2 separate regions of the Homo sapiens genome follow, and region 2 is linked to region 1. Evidence: fine-mapped expression QTL. A gene starts in region 1. The other region holds a variant in brackets. All regions are shown on one strand. Distances are between the middles of the regions.

Region 1 (5,528 bases):
GAGGTTATTCTAATAATTCATGCACATTATTTGAATTAGAACTTCATCATTATTTTGAAATATTTGATATGAAAAGATTGGGTTAGATTCAGTATCTATTAGCAGCATAAAAGATTTTCAATGTAACATTTGTCAAGGAAGAAAAGAAAGAGCTGTTAGATTCTGTAAATATAATGTCAACTGCTAATTTATGAATGGTTTTGAAAGGCTTTAACTTTCATATTACTTGCTTGTGGGAACAAATTTCTCATCACGAGCGACTATCCAGAATTTAAAGAGATCATGACCAAAAGTCTCAAACAGGAATTGTGCATAGTCATTTAAAACAAAAAATATGATTACTACAAATATTACGCTCATGGGACTGAGTTCAAGTTTCCAATTTAAAAAATGGAAATTATTTTAGCTGAACATCTTATGCAAATTCATTCTTTCCCTTACTTTTTGTGGTAGCCTGCCTCCAAGATGGTACCCAGTGATTCTTGTCTCCTGGTATTCACATCCTCATGTAATTCCCTCTCATATTGAATAGGGAAGACTTCTGTAACTAATAAGATAATTGCAGAAATGACAGTGTGTGATTTCCAAGGCTAGTCATAAGAGACACTGTAGGCTTCTGCCTTGCTCTCTCTTAGATCACTTCTTCCGGGGGAAGACAGTCACAGCATTACAAAGACACTCAGATACCCAATGGGGGCTCCACATGCTAAGAAGTTGAAGTCTACTGCCAAGAGCCAGCACTAACCAACTAGCCATGTGAGTAAGCCATCTTGGAAGTGTCTCCTCCAGCCCCAGTCAAGCCTTCAGATGATGTAGCCCCTGATGACATCTTGCCTGCAACATCATGAGAAACCTTGTGCAATAACTACGAGCTAAGCAGCTCCTAAATTCCTGACCCCCCCATAAACTGTGTGAGATAAATGTCTATTGCTATTTTAAGCTGATAAGTTTGGGGGTAATTTGTTATACAGTGATAGATAACTAATATATTTTGGGGATATTTTTGTCATAATTATACAATATTTTAAAATGTCAGTTGTTTTCAATAATCCCATATCAATGCCTCCCACCAATCACCTTCTAAAATGCAGATAAGGTATCTTTTTGGAGAGAAAATTAAAAACTGGGATTGCTAATATTCAGGAGCCTTCACCTTACACAGAAATCTTTAAGTCATATTCACAGACTCCTTTGTTCCTATTTTTATGTATGTTGGGGCAAGGGGACATAGGAGATTAACGGCATAATAGAGCCACAGTGCGGTGGCAGAAATTTTATTTCAAGGGTTTACTGAAAGTTAATGGTCCTGAAGTCACTCTGTATACGAAACATGAGCATAGTTGACACATTTGAAGTCCCTAAGCACTAAAACAATAACGATGCCTTCCTATGTGCAAAGATAAACAAAAAACGATATGTGTAAGAAGCCCCTGACATTACTATTTTTCCCTGATGCTTCTTCTTGAAATGTCAGTTACCAAATTCATCCTAAAGATTGTTTTAGTTTCCCACTTTTTCCCTTTCCTCATAGTTGGTTGATTATTGTTTAATCCAGCAATGATGAAACACCCTTTACAAACATAAAGATTCATTTCTAACATGAACATTTTTTATTACAGCAACTCCTTTGCTCCAGTTATTATGAAATCAATCATTTTACTTCCCAACCACTGGTGTTTTCCCGAGGGGCTCTTGTTAGCCAAGCTACCATTGATAAGTGCTTATTCTGTTAATATTCCTTTGAAACCCATTATAAACATTCCTTTTACCCAGAAACTCAGCAGTCCCTGGGAGGTGACTAAAGGGAGGATGGCAGGGCAGAGGGGAGCTCATTCAGTCCTGCAGACCTCATGCTGCCCAAGTTGTTTGTCCATTTTTTCAGCACCCATGCACTGTCACCTTACATGCATGCAAAGGGCCAAGCTGTTTATCCTGACCATGGAGAAGGACTAAGCAGGTAACAAATGCTAATTTCTGAGGTCAGGCAAGGCACTTTATATTATCCCTTTTTGAAGCCAATATCCAGGTATAGGGCAGGATGGGAAGGTTCTGAGCATCCTGCATATTTACAAGTACTTTGCTACATTTAGTAAGAACTGATTAGTGGTCATACCCATGGAAGTCAAAAACTCTAGCATGGTGGCTCATCCTTATAATCCCAGCACTTTGGGAGGCTGAGGCAGAAGGATCAGTTGAGTCCAGGACTTCAAGACCAGTTTGGACAACACAGCGAGACCTCATCTCTACAAAAAATTTTTAAAATTAGCTGGATGTGGTGGCGCCTGTATTCCCAGCTCCTAGGGAATCTGAGACCAGAGGATCAGTTGAGCCCAGGGATTTGAGGCTGCGGTGAACTATGATCCGGCCACTGCACTCCAGTCTGGGCAACAGAGTAAGACTCTGTCTCAAAAACAAGCCTCTTACAGTTTGGTTACATTTTTAGAAGATTAAGCACATGCCTTAAAAAACATGGGCAAAGAAAGGCACGGAAGAAAACTTAAAAAAACTTGATATTAAAATTTTGAAGCTGAGCTGTTCGATATAACTACAGTCACATGTGACTATTTAATTTTAAGTGAAAATTAAGTAAAATTAAAAATTTCCTCAGTGGGACGAGCATATTTCACCTCCTTTATAGGCCATGCGTGGCTAGAACAGATGGAAAACATTTCCATCATCGCAGAAAGTTCTACTGGACAGCACTGTTCTGAAGTGTTTAATTTGCCATCATGGAAAAGAAATAAAATTCACTGAATGTCCTTAAATCTGTTTTATGATTTGGCATTGTGTTTAAGTCTGGATTGCACATTTAGGATAGAGGTAAGAGGACCACACTATTTTCAGTGTCTGGAGACCTCTAAAGACTCTAATTCGACCTTGGCCAAAACGATCCTTAACAGCATTTATATGCTTGATCTCCTCTCCACGCAGCCCATCAATAAGCCATTGCGCTCCACGGTCACACTTCAGCACTCCCAATACACCAGGCAGACACTGAGTACGAGTCTCGGCTGGTGTCCTAGCAACAGCGACGCGACCCCGCCCCTTCCCGCGTACACCTCCTACCTTATTAGCCTGGAAGGGGCGGGACCAGGGGTCCGTGCCCAATAGGAAGGGAGCAGAGGAGTGAGTCCTGGCCGCGTCCCCGTCGCTAGGGAAACCGATGCAGCTGGAGGCCGCGCGCGATGCGGCTCGCGGAGGAGCGGGCCGCGCTCGCGGCGGAGAACGCGGATGGGGAACCCGGCGCCGACCGACGACTGCGACTCCTGGGGACCTACGTGGCCATGAGCCTGCGGCCGGCTGCGGGCGCCTGGGAGCGTTGCGCGGGGAGTGCTGAGGCGGAGCAGCTGCTCCAGGCCTTCCTGGGCCGCGATGCTGCCGAGGGGCCGCGGCCGCTGCTGGTGGTGCGGCCCGGGCCCAGGGGCCTGGCAATACGCCCCGGGCTGGAGGTGGGACCTGAGTCGGGCCTGGCTGGCGCTAAGGCGCTTTTTTTCCTTCGCACCGGGCCCGAGCCTCCAGGGCCCGACAGCTTCCGCGGCGCAGTGGTCTGCGGGGACCTGCCCGCGGCACCTCTGGAGCACCTAGCCGCGCTGTTCTCGGAGGTGAGGGTGGGTTAGTGTCCCCGCGCGGCTAAAGCTGGGTGGGGGAGGGGAGGAGGAGCCTTAAGGGACGGAGGCGGGGCCAGAGGGGGCGGGGCGAAGCTGCAGGGGAGGTCCAAGAGGCGGAGTGATAGGCAGAGGGGCGAGGCTGTGGAGGGAGCACAACCAGGAGGGAAGTTCCTGAAGTCAGGAAGAAAATGGGATGGGGTTAGGGGCGGAGTCGGGTGGGTCCGGAGGGAGGGATCTGGGTGGAGGCCAGGCCAGAATGAGAATGGGAAGGAGCTGAGGCTTGGGTCAGTCCGGGTCTGGGTTCCAGCCAAAGTCAGGGGAAGACCATAATCTGAAGAGTGCCTAGGTTCTGACTACTTTCAAAATCAGCCTCTCGTAATCCCTCCTGTAAATTGGAAAGATCTGAAGAAGATGGGAAGTGGACAAGACGGCATTTCTGATGGATCAGTGGGGTGGAAGGAGGTGGATGGCTATAAACAGTGCCTACTTCTGGAGAGCAGTTAAATGGGAGGGGGAGGTGGGTAGTGATTTGCTTTTGATTTTCATCTCATTCATTCATTACCAACCATTTAGCAAAGGTCAGCCCTGTGCCAGCATAAGAAGTTGGGCTCCCATTTGGAAATGCCCAGCAGGCCTTTGGAGGAGTCTGCCTGAAGCTCAGGGAGGAAGGTGGAGATGTGGGTCATGAGTGCTTTAGTGGCACCACAGCAGAAGCTTCGAGAATGCAGGAGATTTCAGGGAAGTGCTCCAGAGAGATTCCTGGGCCCCTTAGACCTTTCTGGAATGGGAGTAAACTGCCCTGCAAGTCAGGCTGTGTGCTTATGGAGGCTTGATGCCCTGGACCCTGCAGGTTGTGAAATAAGGATGGGCAGAATACTGGCTGTATGATGGTTCAGGTGATAGGTGCTATAGGGAATACCAAAGAACTATTCCCACCCATGAAATGCTTACTCCAAGGAGCTGAAACGTATGTAATAATTCATATATTCAAAATGTTTCAAACTTTTAAGACTGGGGTGAGGGTAAAGCTTACCTAAAAGTTGGCCCCACTGCTGGATGCAAGTCCTGGAGTCTCCCTGCTATGTCAAGTGTAAGCCCTTTAGATGGTGTATCAGGAGGCTGTGGGGAGGTGAAAATTCCAGGGAAAGGGTTGGATAGATAGAGGAGGACACAGAGGGCCCAGGAAGCTAGATCTCTTAGATATGGAGGTATTTCAATATTTTAACAAACAGAATGGTCTTGCAACTGTGCATTGTCTGAAAGCCATCCCGCTGAAGCCTGAACTTAGATCAGCTTCTCTAATGAATGTTGACGATAGAAAGTACTTTTGGCTTCAGAGGAGAAAGACAGGCCTGTGATCTGAGAAGCATGCTTAACATAAGTGTTGAATTGTCTCCTGAACAATTAGAAGAATTTGTATAAGTAGAGAGCAAGGTAACTTTCAAGATACTGAGAGCAGACTGATCAAAGGTTCAGAGACAGGATTTAACCTAGTGTATGTGGGAGACAGAAGGCCCATCTCAGAGTTGTGTCATGGCCAAGCAAAGTAGTCCAGCAAGAAAAATAATTTTAAAATAATGAAAATTCTCGAATGTTTAAGAATTTTCATTGGTGCATTGAAAGAGATTGGAGACAAACAATGTTCATCAACAGGGGACTGGGTGACTGAATTATGGGCCATCTATACAGTGAAATACTTTGCAACTATTAAAAAGAATGACTGATATGGAATATTCCTTTTTTTGAGGCAGGGTCTTGCTATGTTGACCAGGCTGGTTTCAAACTCCTAGACTCAAGTGATCCTCCTGCCTTGGCCTCCCAAAGTGCTGGGATTACAGGTGTGAGCCACCATGTCCAACCGGAGTTATTCCTTAGGGTAATTTTTTCCTTGTGGCAAAAAAAACACATGACGTAAAATTC
Region 2 (5,000 bases), 260 kb after region 1:
TGGTATCCCTCTCACACCTGTGCTGCCTACCTCCCTGCCCTCACAGGTGTATTGGGACCAAATGTGAAATCCATTGCAAGAATGAAAGGAGCATCTGCCACAGTACTTCCATTCGGAGCTAGAAATAATTCTCTTTGTTTGTGGATCAAGAGCACCTCAAATTAATTTGGCATAAGAATCTAATTTTTGAAATCAAGTTGTCCCCCCACTGACAAAGTTAGCGCCATAAGCAAATGGTTTCACAGCATTTTAAGAGCCTCCAGCTACATTGGGGCTCCACTGCCCTAATAGGAAGTGGTAGGGAGCTGGGCGTGGGAGTCTGCAATGTACCTTTCACGGATATTTCTTTCACCTGGCAGACAGCCTAATGCTTAGCTGTCTGACCCATGACCAGGGGGTCCTTCACATGGGAAATTTGTTTATATTGGCGGATCCCCTTGTGGCTCTTGTCCAATCCATGTCCAGTTTATGCCTGCCTGACCATCACTCTGAGCTGGGAGCTCAGCCCAGTACCTGGAGAAAACCCAGCCTGGAGCAGCCCCTGGTTCTTCAGATGGAAGGTGCAAATTCAGTATACCACCACAACAGGAAACACATTCAAATATTTTTACTTACAGATCCTGAGCAGGGAGAATGCAATGAGTTGGGAGGGTAGTGCTCTGTCCCTGGGTCACGACAGGTAGGAATGAAGAGTGAGGCAGAGAGAAAGAGAAGTGCATAGAAGTGCATGGCAACCGGCAGTATATATAAGAGATATATATAAGAAAGTGTGTGTGTGTGTATATATATATATATATATATATATATATATATATATATATATATATGAAAGTGTGTATATATAAAAGAAAGTAGGATGTGTATATATATATATAAAAGAAAGTATATACAAGAAATATATTTCTCATATTTAATATAAGATATATCTTATGTTAATATATAAGTATATATAAGAAAGTAGGATGTGGGTCACTTTAGGTTTTCAGCAAATGCCTGAATGGTCCCTTTAAAGGAAGTGGCAGGCAAGCAGGGAGCTCCTGCCTAGGAGAGATCCAAATTCTCTGGCTACTGGCTTGAGTCATTTGGGTGTGGTATAGAACTGGAAACTGTATCCAGGGTAACTGAGCCCTGCTTCTGGTATGAATAAAGTTAAACCTATATTCAAAATGGATGCCCAAGCAACAGAAAATTAGAATTCCCTACACCTGATTGTAGGCTTCTCACCGAATGTCATAGCAGGCCTTAAATCAACTTCATACGCATTTATGACACCATTTTATGTACAGAGTAGCGAGTTCTCCTGCCCCCAATTTACAGATGAAGGTGGCAAGTTCTGGAAGGTTTAAGTGATTTGCCAAGATCAACTCTTTCAGCCGTGTCTTTCTGGAACAAGCAAAACTCTGAGCAAAGGACAAACCCAGGACCAGGCAGAGCAGCTGACTCACAGGCTGTGCCTTGTTTCTGTCTGAATTATTTCTTGGCAGAAAATGCTGTTTTGCTATCAGGACAGTCAAGTGTAGTTAGAACAAGCTCATGGAACAAAGCAGTTTAATTAAGGAAAAAAAAATTACTTGGGTTACAGTGCTATTCTCTTCAATCCAAGATGGAAATTAATTTATAATAACCTTATCTTTTATTCATAGCATGCTGCATATTTCAGAGTATGTCGGCATCCTTGTATTTCTCAGTTGAATGTGAAATAATTGTGTGTTTCTAATGGGCTGCGAGTCAGTTAAAGTGCTGAAAGAACATAGCTGAGTCTTGGCTAACCATTCAGAGAAGTCTGAAGCCACTGAGGAGTAGCTTTGGTTTCCTTTTGATGAGTCATGATATTTAAAATTCAGAGGGCTGCTGCAGGCTTCAAAGCAGCCCTTTCAAACCGATCGCTCCACAACCTAACTCCATCAGTGGCAGAGGACAAAGAAAGCCCATTCATGTTCCCCTAACCACCTCCTTCTCTTTTCCCAGACCAACCTGACAGAGCTGAAGTCATTTGGCTCTCCGCCTCTGGCCGTCAGCAATGTCAGCGCTGCGGTGATGGTACTGATGGCTCCCAGGGGTAGGGTGCCCAAGGACCGGAGCTGGAAGGCTGCTAAGGTCACCATGGCCAAAGTGGATGGCTTCCTGGACTCGCTAATAAACTTCAACAAAGAGAACATTCACGAGAACTGCCTCAAAGCCATCAGGCCGTATCTGCAAGACCC[C/G]GAGTTCAATCCTGAGTTTGTGGCCACCAAATCCTATGCGGCTGCAGGCCTCTGCTCCTGGGTCATCAATATTGTGAGATTTTATGAGGTGTTCTGTGATGTGGAACCCAAGCGCCAGGCACTGAACAAAGCCACCGCGGACCTCACAGCTGCCCAGGAGAAGCTGGCTGCCATCAAAGCCAAGATCGCTGTGAGTGACCCCAGAGCCCCTCACCCTGCTAGTCCGCCTCCAATACAAACAACGCTCTTCAGACACCATCTAACACCTAACGTTACGGTTTTTAAAGAGAAGCAGGAAAACCACATTTTCATGCAAAATCTCATTTTTCAGTAGAGGCAACTTTTTACATTTCTTTCTCAAACACTGTATAGGCCAAACAAGACAATTCCACTGGACCACTGGTTTACAAGCTGTGGTGCGAAAAGGTTTTCTCCTTTTCTGAACAAAAGGTTAAAATTTTGAGACTTTTTCTCTTTCTCCTTGGAAATGTGGATTTTAGCCACCTTACCCTTTTTACCTGTTCCCTTCAGTTCTAGCCAACTATCTGCCTGTCTCACTTTCAGTAGCATGGATGTGTGGAAATGTGTCAGCTATCTGCATTGTTTTGTGGAAGTTCGTTAAAGCAAGTTATACACTGTGACTTAGTGGGTGGCCCCTAGTCCATAAATATAAAACTGTGAGGGTCATTAGCTTTTATAAACTCATGTAGATATTGTTATTATGTCTGCTTCACCCAGGATTTGGAGATGGGGATGGTGATCTTGGATTCACACCTATTTGGGAGATTTTCCTTGTCAACCTGAAATAATTGAAAGGATCAGAATTCATTTTTTTTTTTAATCTGTAGAGGCAGGGTCTCCCTATGTTGCCCAGGTTGGTCTTGAACTCCCGGGCTCAAGTGATCCTCCCACCTCAGCCTCCCAAAGTGCTGGGATTACAGGTATGAGCCACTGAGCCCAGCCCAGAATCCAGCTTCAAGAGTTGATTTAAGTGAAAAACTGGCAATGAACTCCAAAGAGATAGAGTGAGTGCTCCAAAGTAAAACGTTAAGGTGTTACTTATATAGGCAGAAAACAAAGAAATTTTCTATAATAGGCTGGTTTATGAGTTACAACAATTTAATTAATTACAGTTTTCTGTACAGCTTGTTTCACTTCCTTTCCAAAGAGTGTATTTAACCTTCCATCTTAGATAATGTGGAGTCTTTGTGTGAGAAAGGTGAAAGAGAGGTTAATCTATAACAAAGATCAGCAATGAAGCTGGAAGGAGTCTTCCCTGGTGCCCTTTAGTCATTTGCAAAGTTTTACAAGACAATGTAGGTAAGGAAAAAGGCCAATCTATAATCAGAGAAATAAAGGTTACAACTGCCTAGGTTATAGCTGCCTGTCCTGTGACTCGAGACCTATAATCACATTACCTTAAGGCTCAAAATATTTTAAAGTTCCAACAGCTTAGATCTTGAATTACTTACTTTCATATGCTTGAACTTCACCTTGCCCATAAAAATGCATATTAACAAAGTAACAGGTAGAAATCAGAATCCTGGAAGATAGCATAGCAACTAAGACTCCATCCTTCCACATAGCTTAGTTCCAATCCAAGCTGTAATATTTACTGATCGTGTGACCTTTAGAAAGGTTTCCAAAATGCCCAAACCTTAGCTTCCTGAAGTAGAATAGACACAGTAATAGTACCTGCTTCATGGGACTATTATGAGAATTAAAGGATGTGATGTGTATAAAGCATGAGACTAGAGCCCAGCCCATGATGAAGGGAGCAGCAGGAGCTGCCCCCCTGCTGTGTGACTATAACTGCTCAACCACTACTGTGTGAGCGTGACTATAACTGCTCAACTGCTACTGCCCCATTTGACAGCATGTGCCATCTACCACATGCACATCCAACCTCTTGCATGGACTCAATCACGGCTGTGATCAAGTTCAATCCAAAAAATTTTCTGGATCTTTAATTTCTGTATGTGCATTCTAGGCAAATAAGATTCTTGCTACAAATTTGTCATGATGATAAGGAGGATTTTACAAGTTATGAAAGGTAGGATTGTAGACATGCTGTATGCCACGTGACATGGGTTTATTGATTGTTAGATTAAAATCTATGGAAAAAGGCTCTAGATCAAAGATCCTTGAGACCAATCTCTCTATTTAAAAAGATACTTTGGGCCGGGTGCAGTGGCTCATGCCTGTAATCCCAGCACTTTGGGAGGTCAAGGCAGGAGGATCATGAGGCCGGGAGATCGAGACCATCCAGGCCACCATGGTGAAACCCCGTCTTTACTAAAAATACAAAAAAAAAAAAATTAGCCGGGCGTGGTGGTGGCCACCTGTAGTCCCAGCTACTTAGGAGGCTGAGGCAGGAGAATGAAGTGAACCTGGGAGGCAGAGCTTGCAGTAAGCCAAGATCAGGCCACTGCACTCCAGCCTGGGCAACACAGCGAGACCCTGTCTCAGAAAAAAAAAAAGAACTTTGGCAAAGCAACTCACCTCCTCTCAATATGCTTGTTTTATAATGCACATGTTCATGGACTAGTTTACTTAAAATAGATGATAATCACCATAACAATTGCTCCCTTCAAAGAACATCACATGCAAGACACCGTCACATCCCCATTCCTGAATTTATTTTTATTTTTTATTTTTAGAGAAGGGGTCTTGCTATGTTGCCCAGGCTGGTCTTGAACTCTTGGCCTCAAGTGAACGTTTTGCTTTGGCCTCCCAAAGAGCTAGGATTACAAGCAGACTACAGGCATGAGCCACCATGTCCAGCCCATATTCCTG

Direction of the effects. Positions count from the first base shown, and alleles are read on the strand shown. Sizes are in standard deviations (SD) of each study's normalised expression.
For the expression in substantia nigra of the gene that starts at base 3,157 in region 1, C is the low allele of the variant in region 2 and G is the other (moderate effect, 0.46 SD a copy in GTEx).

What was found. PIP is the estimated chance that this variant, and not a neighbour inherited with it, causes the effect. A credible set is the group of variants that fine-mapping cannot tell apart.
Region 2: its variant is the best candidate, but not a certain one, in a credible set for the expression of DNAH9 in substantia nigra (GTEx, PIP 0.58).

Annotation. Positions count from the first base shown.
Region 1 is chr17:11,595,314-11,600,841 of GRCh38, forward strand. It overlaps DNAH9 (dynein axonemal heavy chain 9), which reads left to right and starts at 3,157. Exons shown (of 69, transcript NM_001372.4): 1 at 3,157-3,602. The coding sequence starts at 3,186.
Region 2 is chr17:11,852,035-11,857,034 of GRCh38, forward strand. DNAH9 (dynein axonemal heavy chain 9) reads left to right here. Exons shown (of 69, transcript NM_001372.4): 50 at 1,969-2,394. Among named protein-coding and RNA genes, the nearest start is that of ZNF18, 140 kb to the right of the region's middle. The variant C/G (reference allele first, on the strand shown) is at 2,205.